Linked DNA regions of Homo sapiens: region 2 is linked to region 1. A link means that fine-mapping ties the variant in region 1 to the expression of a gene that starts in the linked region. Tissue or cell type: pancreas. Region 1 holds a variant in brackets; the other region holds the start of a gene. All regions are shown on one strand. Distances are from middle to middle.

Region 1 (8,242 bases):
GCTGGAGGCTGACAGACAGCAAGAAACTGAAGCCCTCAGTCAACAGCATGCGAGGATCTTAATGCTGCCAACAACCATGTGAGCCTGGAAGCAAACCTTGTGTTATTTTACAGTCACATCTCATAGGCAGACACAAAATTAAGATGTTAACTATAAGGTACATAAACTCTGTTGAACTTGATTTCCTAAACTATACAATGAGGAGTGTCAGAGAAGATCATTATTTCCCAAAGTATATTCCAAAGAATGCAATAACCACAAGATGCTAAAAAATGTTGAGTGGGAGCTTCCACAATTAAATAATTGTATGCTGCTTGCAGCCCTCTGGGAAGCTCATATTCTGCATTAGTACATTAGAGGCTCTGAGAAGTCCTGCGCTGGAGGCCTCTATGAAGCTCTGAACCCAGTGGCTTCAAAACTTTTTAACCAAATAACCTTTTTTTCTAAGAACACTTATTAATGTCTTCCAGGGCTCTAATTTCTACTTGGGAAATTCTATGAATTTACCTCAAGGTTAATTTTCATCTCACAGGAGGTTAAAAATTAAGTTTGACCTATACATTGAGTTAGAGGTCGTTTTCTTAAATTATACAGAACATAGGAGCCAATCGCAAAAGTCCCCAGGAGCACACATTGTCTCCAGGCTTCCAATCCATCATTTTTAGCTGCCCATTATCTACTTGTTCTTTTCAAGCCACCTTGAGATGCTGATTTTGATGAATCTGAGGATGTAAAATAATATTTACAGATAATGAACACATTTCCAGAGCACAATTTCTTGGTTATTTTATTTATTCTACCAACTTGCTTCATGTAATCACATGTTTGCCACAAAGGAAGAAAAAAGGGGCAAATACATTACATTTCTATTACACAAGTAGTCTGTGAAGTTCCCTCATGCTGTTTTCTTATTTCAGCTAAAATAACCATGTTCAAAGGATACATTAATCCCATTGACCTTTGCAGAGCTATTTAGAGATACCTTGCCTTTTTTTTCCTTCTCTTTTTTTCCATATTAAAGTTTTTGGTGGAATTTCCTCACCCAAGTCAGTTGTGAAATCTGTACAGTGGAGACAATAAAATGGAGGCTTAATGATTCAGTTCATGTTCCTTTATCAACTCACTGCCCACACAGCCAACTCATTAGTATCAAATAGAACAAAAATGCCTGCAGGAAAATCGTGGGTGCTACTTTCAAGCAGTTCTTTTGATCTATGAGTCATCTTTGCTCTGGCTCCAACTTTAGGCAAATCATTTAACTTTCCCTAGTCTTTGCTTTGTTAAGCCTCTGTTTCCCCATTCACAAAATGGGCCTCATATAGTTGCCACCTCACAGAATCATGGAGAAGAGTATATCAGATAATGCTGGAAGATATCACTCAATCTGTTTACTCAAAAAAGCACTCAAGTGCCTGGAAATCTACTTTTAGGGATGCTACTGCACTTAATTGATATAATAAAACATATATGGTGGCTTCTATCATTCAAGTTTTTATAAATGAAGGAACAGAAAAGTTAAGTAACTTGCCCAATGTCACCCAGCTAAAAGTAGAGAACGGTGGATTTGAACTCTTTTCTGTTCGACTCCGGATTATTTTCAATGCTCCACACTGATGAACAACAACATATGTGGAGTGTCTCCTATAGCAAGCATTTGGCAAAATGCTGAAGCAAATTTTTTTAGAAAAAAATTCATTCCATTTAAGTCAAGCCTAGTCCTTAGGCAAAGCTATGAAGTGAAGTAAGCAAAATTGATCTCCTCTGTCCTTCCTGCCCACCTCTAAGGAACAGCCTTCTTGTGGCCCCTATAAGCCCAGGGATCTTCTCACAAATGCCTCACTAGGACCTACCTACCCAGACAGTGGCCTGACTTCTACATCAGTGATACACAAAGTAACCGGTCTATGCGTTGCTTCTTTAGCGGTGATTTCTGAGATTTTGGTGCACCTATCACCCCAGCAGTGTACACTGTACCCAATGTGTAGACTTTTATCCCTTGCCACCTCCCACCATTTCCCCCAATTCCCCAAAGTTCAGTGTATCGTTCTTATGCCTTTGCGTCCTCATAGCTTAACTCCCACATATGAGTGAGAACATATGATACTTGGTTTTCCATTCTTGAGTTACTTCACTTAGAATAATAGTCTCCAATTCCATCCAGGTTGCTGCAAATGCCATTATTTCATCCCTCTTTATGGCTGAGTAGTATTCCATGTTTTATATATATATATAAAACATGATATATATATCACATTTTCTTCATCCACTCATTGATTGATGGGCATTTGAGCTGGTTCCACATTTTTGCAATTGCAAATTGTGCTGCTGTAAACACGCGTGTGCAAGTATCTTTTTTGTGTAATGACTTCTTTTCCTCTGGGTAGATACCTAGTAGTGGGATTGCTGGATCAAACTGTAGATCTACTTTTAGTTCTTTAAGGAATCTCCACACTGTTTTCCCTAGTAGCTGTACCAGGGAAATAATTTAACTTTCCCTAGTCTTTGTTTTGTTAAGCCTCTGTTTCCCCATTTTACATTCCCACCAGCAGTGTAAAAGTGTTCCCTTTTCACTGAATATATTATTTTTTGATTTTTAAATTATGGCCATTCTTGCAGTACTGAGGTGATATTGCATTGTGGTTTTGATTTGCATTTTCCTGATAGTTTGTGATGTTGAGCATTTTTCCATATGCTTGTTGGCCATTTATATATCTTCTTTTGAGAACTGTCTATTCATGTCCTTAGCCCACCTTTTTTTTTTTTTTTTTTTTTTTTTTTTTGAAACAGAGTCTCACTCTGTCACCGGGCTGGAGTGCAGTGGCACGATCTTGGCTCACTGCAACCTCCACCTCCTGAGTTCTAGCAATTCTCCTGCCTCAGCCTCCGGAGTAGCTGGGATTACAGGCGTGTGCCACCACACTCAGCTAATTTTTGTATTTTTACTAGAGACAAGGTTTCACCATGTTGGCTAGGATGGTCTCGATCTCTTGACCTCGCGATCTGCCCACCTCTTGCTGGGATCATTTGTTTTTTCTTGCTGATTTATTTGAGTTTTTTGTAGATTCTGGATATTAGTCCTTTGTCAGAGGTATAGATTGTGAAGATTTTCTCTGTAGGTTGTCTGTTAACTCTGCTGATTATTTTTTTGCTGTGCAGAAGCTTTTTGGTTTAAGTCCCATCTATTTATATTTGCTTTTGTTGCATTTGCTTTTGGGTTCTTCGTCATGAAGTCTTTGCCTAAGCCAATGTCTATAAGGGTTTTTCTGATGTTATCTTCTAGAATCTTTATGGTTTCTGGTCTTATATTTAAGTGTTGGATCCACCTCAAGTTGATTTTTGTAAAAGGTGAGAGATGAGGATCCAGTTTCATTCTTCTACATGTGGCTAGCCAATTATCCCAGAACCATTTGTTGAATACAGTGTCCTTTCCCCTCTCCACTTTATGTTTTTGTTTGTTTTGTCAAAGATCAATTGGCTGTAAATATTTGGCTTTATTTCTGTGTTCTCTATTCTGTTCTCTATTCTGTTTTATAGAACAGACTCTATTCTATTCTATAAAATGTGCCTATTTTTATACTAGTACCATGTAGTTTTGGTGACTATGACCTTATAGTATAGTTTGAAGTTGTGTAATGTGATGCCTCCAGATTTATTCTTTTTGCTTAGTCTTGCTTTGATTATGTGGGCTCTTTTTGGGTTCCATATGAATTTTAGGATTTTTTTTTAGTTCTGTAAAGAATGGTGAAGTTATTTTTATGGGAATTGCATTGAATTTGTGCATTGTTTTTGGGAGTATGTCATTTTCACAATATTGATTCTACCCAGCCATGAGCATGGAATGTGTTTCCATTTGTTAGTGTCATCTATGATTTCTTTTAGCATTGTTTTGCAGTTTTCCTTGCAGAGGTCTTTCACGTCCTTGGTTAGGTATATTCCTAAGTTGTTTTTTGTTTTGTTTTGTTTCGCAGCTATTGTAAAAGGGGTTAAATTCTTGATTTGATTCTCAGCTTGGTCACTATCGGTGTATAGCAGAGCTACTGATTTGTCTGTACTAATTTTGTATCCTGAAACTTTGCTGAATTCATTTACCAGTTCTAAGAGCTTTTTGGATGAGTCTTCAGGGTTTTCTAGGTATACACTCATATCATCAGCAAACGGTGACAGTTTGACTTCCTCTTAAGGAAGCTCTTGGATGCCCTCTGTTCTGTCCATTTCTATCATTGACCCGAAAAATTAATTCATGTGAACATATCAGTGTTGCTAATAAAGAACCTTTGGAGTCTCTGGATAAAATCTTTATAATTTAAAGTGGGTCTACAGAGGAAAATAAATTGTTCTACAAAAAAAAGACATGCACTTGTATGTTTATCACAGCACTATTCACAATAGCAAAGACATGGAATCAAAGTGCCCACTGGAAGTGGATTGGATAAAGAAAATAGGGTTTATAAACACCGTGGAATACTATGCAGCCATAAAAAAGAACAAAATCATGTACTTTGCAGCAAGATGGATGCAGCTAGAGGCCATTGTCCTAAGCAAATTAATGCAGGAACAGAAAACCAAATACCATATGTTCTCACTAAGTGAGGGCTAAACATTGGGTACTCGTGGACATCAAGATGGCAAAAATAGGCACTGGGGACTACTAGAAGGGAGAGAAAGTGGGAGCAAGGGTTGTAACTATTGGGTACTATGCTCATTACCTGAGTGACAGGATCAATCATACCCCAAAACCCAGCATCACACAATATTCCCATGTAAAAAACCTGCACATGCACCTCCTGAAACTAAAATAAAAGTTGAAATTATTTGTAATAAACAAACAAAATGGGACTATTATAGATGTTCCTTAACCCAGAGAATCATTCTGATAGTGTGAATTTTAGGTACCTGTACCATGCAAGGCTGTAAGAAATATACATTAGGGAAACAGATGGAAATTTAGTTGCTACTTCAGTCACTTAAAACTGACTCTTGTGTGTATGTG[T/C]ATATGTACACACATCCACATGTGTGTGGCCTGTGGTAGCATGGTGAGGCATGATGACATGCTATTATGATGTGAGGGTTAGGGAGAGAAGCTACTTGTTTTTTGGTCAAAAGATTTCCTCTGAGTCTGCCAGAGAGAGGCAGGGTGAACTTAAACCTTGCTTCTCTATCAGAGACAGATATTTTTTTCTCTCCTCTTCGTATTCCTAGTACTAAGGGAGGATGTGTGCCCAGTGTGCCAAGAAGAGTGCCTGGAACATTGCAGGCACTCAATAAGTGTATTAGTCCTTCAGCAAGCATCCACTTAGCTCTTGTTTTATGCCAGGCTCTGTTTATACACCAGAGAATAAAACAGATGAAGACCTGGCTCTCCTGGTGCTCACATTCTAGTGGCAGAGACATTAAATAGAGGGGAAGGAGTGAAGTGAGGAGCAGCCTTTAAGAAGTTCAAGTTGGGGGCAAAAGGAGGTAAAAACAGACTGTGTGCGTGTAGCCTGCACTGTGTTCCCTTTCTCTGGGCCATATCCAGAATGACATAGATCTATGATAGTTCTATGGCAGGCTGAGTTTGGGTATTTAAATTGTTCAAAGAGGGAATTGGGGCCATGCGCGGTGGCTCACACCTGTAATTCCAGCACTTTGGGAGGCTGAGGCAGGCAGATCACAAGATCAAGAGATCGAGACCATCCTGGCCAGCATGGTGAAACCCCGTCTCTACAAAAATACAAAAATTAGCTGGGCGTGGTGGCAGGCACCTGTAGTCCCAGCTACCTGGGAGGCTGAGGCAGGAGAATCACTTGAACCCAGGAGGTGGAGGTTGCAGTGAGCCGAGATCATGCAACTGCAATCCAGCCTTGTGACAGAGTGAGACTCTTTCTAAAAAAAAAAGGGGGGGAATTGGGATAAGTTGAAGTAAAAACTTTCTTACTAGGATAGAATGCCAAGGGAAAGTGCAAATTCCATTCCTTGAATAAAAATGGGTGATGAAAATCCAATTCTTACCAGGAACCATGAGTTGAAGAAAGAATGCTGGACAGGAAGTCTGCATTCCTGCTGTGCTGTTTATAAGCTGGGCGACCTTAGCCAAGTCTCTCCACCACCATAAGCCTTAGTGTCCTCATCTACAGAAAGAGAAGGGAGGATTTGATGACCACTGAGTTCCCTTCCAATCCTGTGGATTCAATGACACCAAACTCTTCTGGTCTCTTCAAGTCCTCTACTTCTATATTTTCATTTACTGTAGGTTTTTACTGGAAAAAACAGAATGCACCACTTCTTGGAATATAGTGTTAGCCTCAAGATTTCTTAAAAAGTATAACCCACTGCTGGGATTACCATTGTGAAAAGTCTGAGAGAGGAGACAGGGCAGAGACAAGGGTTGGGGGCAGAGGGAACACATATAATACCACTATGTCTGTGTATAGACAGGAAATCTCAAAATATCTCTCACGGTCATGTGGGGCATCTCCCTCACTGTCATAATACAGGTAAATCAAGCTCTATACAATCTATACTGTTGAAAAGCAGCATCAAAACCCAGTTTGGGTCATTTAAATTATAGAAATACACTAGAGAAATTGTTATTAAAGAGAATCTTTTAATATCTTTTGTGATGCAAATGAATGCTCCATATTTCATTTTCATGACAATCTGGGTTTGTATGAATTTATATTTAAAAATTACAGCCAATATTTACCAAGGGCCCACCCTGTATCAGGCTCTGCGCCAAGAAGTTTGCATACAGTATTGCATCTAATAACAGCCTCACAAAATTATTTCTGATTATCACAATTTTACAGAAGAAGAAAATGCAGCTCAGAGAAGTTGAGTGATTTACCCAAAGTAACACAGAGTGTAGTAGGAAGGAGAATGAGTAGACAAGCCTAAATTTATCTAATCTAAGAGCCAAAATTCTTAACCACTACTCTATACTGCCCAAAAAAATTGAAGCAAAGTCTGCTCTGGGTACATGTGGAGTCTAGGGGCTCTCTTTGTCCTGTAGCTTCTATTTTCTTAGTCCAAGTCCCCACACCCATTTCTCAGCTACTGAACCTTGTTTACAGGCCTGAAAAATGGCAAGTGGTTTTCAGGCATAGATTCTGTTCTCAGAAGCCCAAGACTATGAGCCAAAATAGGCCGTGGAAGGCTCAAAAGAGAGTGGCCAGGCCAAGAGAAGGCTCAAAGCCATGTTATGTGGGAACAGTGGAAGAAGTGAACAGGCTTGGACTGGAAAGAAGAAGGCTCCAGGGAAACAGGTGCTAACAGAGTTTTTCACAGCTCAGCTGTCTCATTTGAAGAAGTCGCTTCAGCCAGAAGCAGCAGACTCAGTACATTCAGCAATGCAGATTGATTTTTAAAATACAGAAAGAAACAGAAGGTGATCTATAGCACAAAGTCAGGTATTTAAGTTTTAAAAATTTTTTAAATCTATGACAGGCCGGGCGTGGTGCTTCAGGCCTGTAATCCCAGCACTTTGGGAGGCTGTGGCAGGTGGATCACCTGAGGTCAAGAGTTTGAAACCAGCCTGGCCAACATGGTGAAACCCTGTCTTTACTAAAAATACAAAAATTAGCCAAGCATGGTGACACGTGCCTGTAGCCCCAGCTACTTGGGAGATTGAGGTAGGACAATCATTTGAACCCGGGAGGCGGAGCTTGCAGTGAGCTGAGATCGCACCACTGCACTCCAGCCTGAGCAACAGAGGGAGACTCCATCTCAAAAAAAAAAAAAATCTGTGACAAAAAAGTACATGTTTTACAAGAACTCATACAAATAGAAAAATACACATCATATGCTTTAGGATGGTTGCTTATGAGGAAGAAGTAAGAGGGCTGGGAAGAGTCAAAAGGAAGAAATAAGTGGCATTTGCCTTATTTTTACCTTGGTCCGAATATATGCATGAGGACCACATGTGTTAAGCCCCAGGAGATAATGCTAGGATCCGCAGGTGAAACTCAAAGAGCACTATTCAAAATACATCCTGAGCCCACACACTTTGCACACCAAGATGCCATTGTCTCTGGCCCGAACTTCCGCAGCAGTCTCTAACTGCTCTCCCTAAGCCCACTTACTTTCCCATACAGTCTATTTGCAGAGCAAATTTTCTATAACTTAAGTCAAATCGTACTAGGACCCTCCAATGACTCCTTATCATGTTTAGAGTAAAATACGGTATCCTTACAAAGACTCCCAAGGCCCCATGGGTCTGGCTCCCATGGTCTGCCTCCCATTCCCTTTCTAACCTCATATCTCA
Region 2 (8,242 bases), 810 kb after region 1:
AGACCAGCCTGGGCAACAGGGCAAAATCCCATCTCTACCAAAAAAACAAAAATTAGCCCAGCATGGTGGTGCATGCCTGTAGTCTCAGCTACTTGGGGAGGTCGAGGCCGCAGTGGGCCAAGATTTGCACTATTTCACTCAAGCCTGGGTGATAGAGTGAGACCCTGTCTCAATAAAAAAAAAGGAAAAGAAAAAGAAATGTCTTGGTCTAAGGAAAGAGTAGTGGGCAAAGATGCAAGATATTTAAGATAGTAGCTTTGAGAATTCATCATGGAGGATAAAAGAGAGGGAAGGGTAAAGAACAGTGGGCCGGGAACAGTGGCTCATGCCTGTAATCCCAGCACTTTGGGAGGCCGAGGCGGGCGGATCACTTGAGGTTAGGAGTTCAAGACCAGGCTGACCAACATGGTAAAATCCTGTCTCTACTAAAATTACAAAAATTAGCCGGATGTGTTGGTGCACGCCTGTAATCCTTGCTACTTGGGAGGCTGAGGCAGGAAAATCGCTTGAACCTGAAAGGCGGAGGTTGCAGTGAGCTGAGATGGCGCCACTGCACTCCAGCCTGGGCAAGAGAGGGAGACTCCGTCTCAAGAAAAAACAAAAACAAAAAAAACAGTGCCCAGATCAGATAAAGAAATTAACATTTATATATATTAATATGCAGTAAGCCCGGGCAAAGTTTGTATCTAATGCCCCTCCCCTTAATTTAGTTGAATCTGTATTACTTAGTCATTAAAGAGGGAAGGAATTTGAATTAATGGGTAGAAACAACATAAGAAACAACCATACGTGACATACCCTGCAAGTACCAAAATGGTTGCTACAAATTTGTAGATGAATTCTGGAAAGATTGATGAGGACTGAAAATGATTCATGGAATTGAAATTTAAGAGTCTGGGAAAGCACAGAATTTACACAAAGGATAAGAAAATTCTAGGACTCTGCTGTCCAATAAGGCAGCCACTAGAAATGTGGCTATTACAAGTTGAAATGTCATTTGTTAAAATATATACTGCATTCGATATAAAAAATTGTAAAATATCTAAAGAATTTTTCATCTTGACTCCATGTTGAAATGTATTTTGTGTATATAGGGTTAAATAAAATATATTAAAATGGGCTCACGCCTGTAATCCCAGCACTTTGGGAGGCTGAGACAGGCAGATCACTTGAGGTCAGGAGTTTGAGACCAGCTTGGCCAACATGGCAAAACCCTGACTCTACTAAAAAATACAAAAAAAAATTAGCCGGGTGTGGTGGAGTGTGCCTGTAATCCCAGCTACTTGGGGGGCTGAGGCAGGAGAATCACTTGAACCTGGAAAGTGGAGGGTGCAGTGAGCTGAGATCTTGCCACTGCACTCCAGCCTGGGCCACACAGAGCGAGACTCCATTTCAAAAACAAAGCAAAACAAACAAAAAACAACAACAAAAAAAACCTTTTATATATATATATATATATATATATATATATAAACACATTGCACCAGTTTTTTTTATTATTTTACTTTTTAAAATGTGGCTTATAGAAGACAAATTTACATTATATTTCCATTAGCCAGCAATGTTCTGGGAAAAATAATATAAATAAAATGTATATAATGAAAAACAAACTTTGGTGAATTAACCTGACTGGAACATAGCTAAGGATTCACAGGAGAGAAAAATCAAAGTTAGGGCTGAAGAGGTAGAAGGGATAGCAGTATTCAGGATTTGAATGAAAAGGGATTTCAGACTGGACAGACTGGATTTAACATCTCTAGAGATGCCATTTTTGCCTTTGTTGCCACTTTTGCCTTTTAGAGACCATAAAAGTGACATTTAAGAAAAATCAACCTGCCAACGGTACACAAATGGAAAGAAGTGGAAGAGCAAAGATTTTAGAGATTTGCCATTTTAGAGGTACAGGTACCATGATTGCAAGAAAAATTCTGGTCCTTGCCTTGATTCTAGGGAGTTGATACTCAATATCATCTGAATCTTTTTTGCTGAGTCTACAGCTTTTTTTTTTTTTTTTTTTTTTTTTTGAGACAGAGTCTCTCTCTGTCGCCAGGCTGGAGTGCAGTGGCGCGATCCCGGCTCACTGCAGCCTCTGACTCCCCGGTTCAAGTGATTCTCCTGCCTCAGGTTCCCGAGTAGCTAGGATTACAGGCATACGCCACCACGTCCAGCAAATTTTTGCATTTTTAGTAGAGCCGGGGTTTCACCATGTTGGTCAGGATGATCTCGATCTCCTGACCTCGTGATCCGCCCGCCTGGGACTCCCAAAGTGCTGGGGATTACAGGCGTGAGCCACAGCGCCCGGCCTGAGTCTACAGCTTTTTAAAATCTGAATTCAGTTACTTTCTATGTGGAAAAGAATGTACCCAGCAGCCACAAAAGCAATTTGCCTCACTATACATATAGCAACTGGGTGTGTGGAAAAAACCAGCATTTGTTTTTTTCCAGCATAAATAGCAAGAACAATCTTTCCTGATAGTGCAACTTTTTTGCCTAAAGGTTTTGGAGTTCTTCAAAGCCATCGTGGCATCAAAGACTACTGGAACGAACACACACACACACACACACACACACACACACACACACACACCATCATGGCATCAAAGACTACCTAAAAACAGCCCCCCTCCCCAGCCATCATGGAATCAGACTACTTCAACACGCGCGCGCACACACATACACACCCATGACATCAAAGACTACTTAAACACGCACACGCACGTACACACACCCCAAGCTATCGTGGCATCAAAGACTACTTCACGCGCGCGTGCACACACACACACACACCATGGCATCAAAGACTACTTACACACACGCCCCCTAGACAGGTTTTTCTTTTTCTTTTTTGAGACGGAGTCTCGCTTTGTCGCCCAGGCTGGAGTGCAATGGCGCGATCTCGGCTCACTGCAACCTCCGCCTCCGGGTTCAAGCGATTCTCCTACCTCAGCCTCCTGAGTAGCTGGGGATTACAGGCGCGCGCCACCACGTCCAGCTAATTTTTTGTATTTTTAGTAAGAGACGGGGTTTCGCCATGTTGGCCAGGCTGGTCTCGTACTACTGACCTCAGGTGATCCGCCCGCCTTGGCCTCCCAAAGTGCTGGGATTACAGGCGTGAGCCACCAGGCCCGGCCTCTAGACAGGTCTTTCAAAAGTTTCAATTATTAACCTTCTTAGAAAGGTCATTAACCTAACGGGCAAAGCAAGACTCAGGTTTTGACGAATCAAGACTGATTTGCTTGTATTTTGCAATAGCTATTGATTATAAATAATACTTCCAGGCACCTTTCCACCCCTTGGCCATTTCTCGTTCTCCTCTACTTTGCTCCTTCTCCCCATCCCCGAGGCAGTAAAGTTCGGGGAGGCCCGGGAGCGCCTGGGCCACGTGTGCGCCCGCGCGGCTGCCTAGAGGCGCTGCTGCAGGGAGGCGGGACAGAGTTTCGCGGCTCGCACGTGGCCGCGAGCTCACGGCCTGGGGGTCAGGGAGACCGTGAAGGGCCCGGATCCCTGTTACTCACCCTCAGCTGTCGCCATTATCCTAAGTGGGCTGAGGGCTGCGACCGCGCCGGGAAGCGAGGCAGAACTCTAGAAAAGAGGGGTGGTCAGAGAGCTTCGCTGGGCGGGGAAGGAGGCGGGGCCGCGCGACCCTGCGCCACTCTTTTCGAGCTCCGCTACAGCCGCCTAACCCGGAGGGGTATGGGCGGAGACTGAAACGCGGATATCGGACGAAACAACGCCCCACTGGCTTCCCGCCGCGCAGGCGCAGAGACGCGACCCCGCCTCCGGGCCGCCCCGCGCTGGCGCAGTGCCCGGACAGGCGAAAAGTGGCGCGCACTGGCGGCCCCTCCCCACTCTGCGGAAGCTCGCATACCCCGGCCCCTTCTCGGCTGCGGGAGCGACTCAGAAGTTGGAGCGTACCAAGTCTTGACGGCCTGGGGGAAGCATGCAGGGAAGGGCATATGAAGGCTAAATGCTCTGAAAGAGAAATGAGGTTAAGTCCGTTACTCCCATTACGCTACTGTTGGGTGCTGGAAAATAACGGAGATTTCCACGTGCAGCAAATACAGCTTTCCAGGCAGCTCTTAGGGGAAGGCTAGCTCCACCCTACAGCATCCGTGACCCCGCCCCTCAGCCGCGGGACCGCCCCTCCGCCCTCGCTCGTTGGTGGACTCGGAGGGGGAGGAGCAGGGCTGAGCTGGCCACGCCACCTAGGGACAGCGCGCGCCGCCGCAGTAGCTGGGGCCACCCTCGGGAAGGAAGAGCCTGTCGCGAGCGCGAGCTTCTGAGCTCGACGGGCCGAGCTGGCAGCTGGTTGGTGCTTACACCTTGGCCGCAGCGGCAGGTCCTTCCACGTGCTTTCGGCGGCGACATGGAGCTGGAGGAGTTGGGGATCCGAGAGGAATGTGGCGTGTTCGGGTGCATCGCCTCAGGAGAGTGGCCCACGCAGCTGGATGTACCGCATGTGATCACTCTGGGACTCGTGGGGCTGCAGCACCGGTGAGCAACAGGGTGGGGGTGGCGGGGGCGTGCGTCTCCATCTCTCGGAGCCGCTTCCCGCAGTCGGCGTTCTCATGAGCGCCCGAGGGCCCGGGAGGACCGACCTCTCCGACCTAAGCCAGTACCTGCCTGTGGCGTCGACCGGGTTGCCTAGGCGTGCACGAGGGGCACCTCGCTTCCATGAACTTTAGCCTGTCCTGCCCACCCTCCCAGCCACTTATGCCTTTTAGGGGCTCTCTCCCTCCCCGCCCCCCGGTGTGTGCACCCATCCAGAGGCTGGCCAGCTTGTAAACCGCCGGTTTGCTTGGTCTAGCTGGGTCAGGGCTCCTCCCCGACTGCAGGCGGGTTCTAGTCTCCCGGAGCCTGTGGCTGCTCCTGTAATAGGCTAGTGTGGCGTGGCGGCCAGTCCAGGTCCTTCAACACCTAAAGGTTTTCGCGCGGGGCCTCCAACCACCACAAGCTTTTGTTTGCAAGGGCAGAGCTATTGAGCAGATTATGGGTTTGAAAGTAGTTATCGCTATGGGAACTTGAGGATGCTAGACTTCAGACCCAGGGAAAGATGACTAGTTGATGTTGAGAATGACTACTGGTAGTAGATCTCACATAAATTAAATGGAAATAAGCCAACCATAGGGAACAGTGCATCTGGAAAAGATTCATTGGTAGACGTCTTGCCTAATGAATGAAAACGTTGGTAATAACATGACAAAAATTAACTCCCTTCTTCAAAAGGGGGACAGGGGAGTAGTGTCTCTATGCCAAGATCCATACACTTGATTTTGAAAAATTGGGAGATCCTTTCGAGTTAAAAAAAATTACTTTGCTTCGGTGATCTTTCCTTTTCTTACTACCTGACTTAACTGGAAGTTGATATAAATTATTACACTAGGATAAGAAAAACAAACCTGGGTTTGATATTCTTACTGAAAGTATTACAGTTTCCATAAGGCAATACAGTGGTAACAACTTACACTACAGTTAAGGAACTTGGCAATAACACGTAACAGCAAAATGGGTGCAACACGTATAAACGCATTCCAAAAGATTAGCTTTTCCTCCACCAAACTTAAATTAGAAGTATTTTTTGCTGTTTTCATTGTCCCAGGTACTTCAATTTCAGTTTCACATTTTGTGTGTTCCTTGTTTACTAAAGAGCTGAGAATGTGGGAAGCATCAAAAAGAATATTTTTAACTTGCGTAGCTCCAATCTTGGATAATTGTGGGTTGACCATAATAGATTTCTTGTTTTTTTTAAAAAAAGTTTATTGAGAAAATTAGTTACGTAATCCAAGGAGAAAGTAAACTCTTGATTATGTGGTAGTTGTGAGCAACATTAGTTTGTAACATTCTTAGAAACTATGGCCAGGCGCGGTGGCTCACGCCTGTAATCCCAGCACTTTGGGAGGCCGAGGCGGGCGGATCACGAGGTTAAGAGATCGAGACCATCCTGGCCAACATGGTGAAACCCCATCTCTGCTAAAAATACAATTAGCTGGGTGTGGTGATGCGCTCCTGTAGTCCTAGCTACTCCGGAGGCTGAGGCAGGAGAATCGCTTGAACCCGGGAGGCTTAGGTTCCAGAGAGCAGAGATCACGCCACTGCACTCCAGCCTGGGCGACAGAGCGAGACTCCGTCTCAAAAAAAAAAAAACAGTTGTTATTTTGGATACTCTGTCATGGGGGTGAGGGAGAATCTAGAGGTCTTTAGGGTTGCCTGGTGGTCTGTAGAAAATATGTATGAACTGTACTTCACTATATTTACTTTTTTTGCCAAAGTTATTCAAGAAATTTTCATCCCCCTTTCTCCTTCCCTTTAAATGTGTGCCTGAAGAAAAAGAGGCTTTTTTTTTTTTTTAACTTACATGTTAGCACTGGTTGGAGTTTTAGTACCCAGTTTAGGAAAATACTTGGTATTCATGGTTATAGGTTTTTTTTTTCTTTTTTTTTTTTTTTAATGAATACCATTTGATTCCTGGTTACATATATCTGTTTTCTATAGTTGCTTTTCTGTGAAAGAATTGTAAGATTAAATAATACCAGATAAGGGCAATAATGATGTGATTATGTGGTTTTGAGGAACAAATGTATTACTGAAAAACAATTTAACATTTCTCTTGTGTAGGCATAGAATCATTAAGGTGCACAAAGAGGGCTGGTTCTCACCCATAATCAATTCAAAATTTTACATGAGCTAAAGTGCTCATCCTTTGGGAGGACTGATTCTGCTTGGAAGAACAATGACACTCCCTTATGTCTTGGAAATACAATTATCTGCTGCTCGAAACTGATAGATAAGGGCCAGAATAAAACTAAGAACTTTTTCTTTTAGTTTAGTTTTATATATATATATATAAAATACGTGTGTGTATGTATATATGTATATATATATCGTACTCTGAGAAGTGGTGGTCTGTTGCAGAAAGCTCTGTTTTCACTTTCTCACCCTCATTCACTCACTGGTTAGTTTTAAAACAACTGCAAAAAGGTTTGATTGTGTTTTTTTCCTTTTTGATGAAGGAATTTATTTCTTATATATTATCTTCTTGATTTTTTTTTTTTTTTTGAGACAGAGTCTCGCTGTCTCCCAGGCTGGGGTGGAGTTCAGTGGCGCAGTCTCCCCTCACTGCAAGCTCCGCCTCCCGGGTTCACGCCATTCTCCTGCCTCAGCCTCCCGAGTAGCTGGGACTACAGGCGCCCCCCACCACGCCCGGCTAATTTTTTGTATTTTTAGTAGAAACGGGGTTTCACTGTGTTAGCCAGGATGGTCTCGATCTCCTGACCTCGTGATCTGCCCGCCTTGGCCTCCCTTTTTTTTTTTTTTTTTTGAGACAGGGTCTCACTCTGTCACCTAGGCTGGAGTGGAGTGGTATGATCTGGGCTCATTGCAACCTCCGTTTCCCAAGTTCAAGTGATTCTCGTACCTGTCTCCCGAGTAGCTGGGATTACAGGCGCCCGCCACCACACTCAGGTAATTTTTGTATTTTTAGCAGAGACGGGGTTTCACCATGTTGACCAGGCTGGTCTTGAACTCCTGGCCTCAAGTGATCCACCCTCTTCGGTCTCCCAAAGTGCTGAGATTACAGGCGTGAGCCACCATGCCTGGCCAACCTTATCTTTAAGAAGATGGAATCTAGAAGGTGAGATTTCTATCACTTTTGTTTTGTATTTGGTCCAGTTTTTTGTCTTGGGTATAATCTAATCTGAAACATTTAGTCCTGGGGTTAACAGAATACCTGGAAGGTATATTAGCCATTTCATATAAAAATAAATAGAGTATCAATTAGTTAAGCCAGTCATGCACTGGATATTTAACCCAGATGGGTTCATCCAGATGTACTCCCCGTTTTTAGTAGTTCTGGCTGTCTTCAGATTTATTCCGTAGCTCTGCTTTCTGTAGGGGAATTTTCACATGTCCTCTTAGCTGTAAACTGTGCATGCATGTGTGTGGGTATGTTCATGCCTGATTTATATAATCACCAAATGCTGTTTTGGTCCTGAAAACATCATTTCAGTAGTTTGCGGAGTTCTGAACAAACCAGACACCCCTTCTTAGAATAAACATTTTCATCTTTAAAACACAGTCACATTTTATGGAGACTAGAATGGCCTGGACATATTTGAAGATTCCATAAAAGGAATTAGTAAATGTCTGTAGATTTATGCCATGAATCAGCTAATTAGCCTTTCCTTGATTAGGAGATAACCATGCCCTTCCATTCAATGAATTATCACTTCTCCTGGTTAGGAAT

The links. PIP is the estimated chance that this variant, and not a neighbour inherited with it, causes the effect.
Region 2: PPAT starts here. The variant in region 1 is fine-mapped to the expression of PPAT in pancreas (GTEx, PIP 0.94).

The regions. Positions count from the first base shown.
Region 1 is chr4:57,242,217-57,250,458 of GRCh38, reverse strand. No RefSeq gene overlaps it. Among named protein-coding and RNA genes, the nearest start is that of IGFBP7, 140 kb to the right of the region's middle. The variant T/C (reference allele first, on the strand shown) is at 4,991.
Region 2 is chr4:56,431,602-56,439,843 of GRCh38, reverse strand. PPAT (phosphoribosyl pyrophosphate amidotransferase) reads left to right here and starts at 4,229. Exons shown (of 11, transcript NM_002703.5): 1 at 4,229-4,494. The coding sequence starts at 4,367. It overlaps PAICS (phosphoribosylaminoimidazole carboxylase and phosphoribosylaminoimidazolesuccinocarboxamide synthase), which reads right to left and starts at 3,584. Exons shown (of 9, transcript NM_001079524.2): 1 at 3,516-3,584. The coding sequence starts at 3,531. RefSeq lists enhancers at 2,614-3,497, 4,345-4,524 and silencers at 3,625-3,914, 4,055-4,254.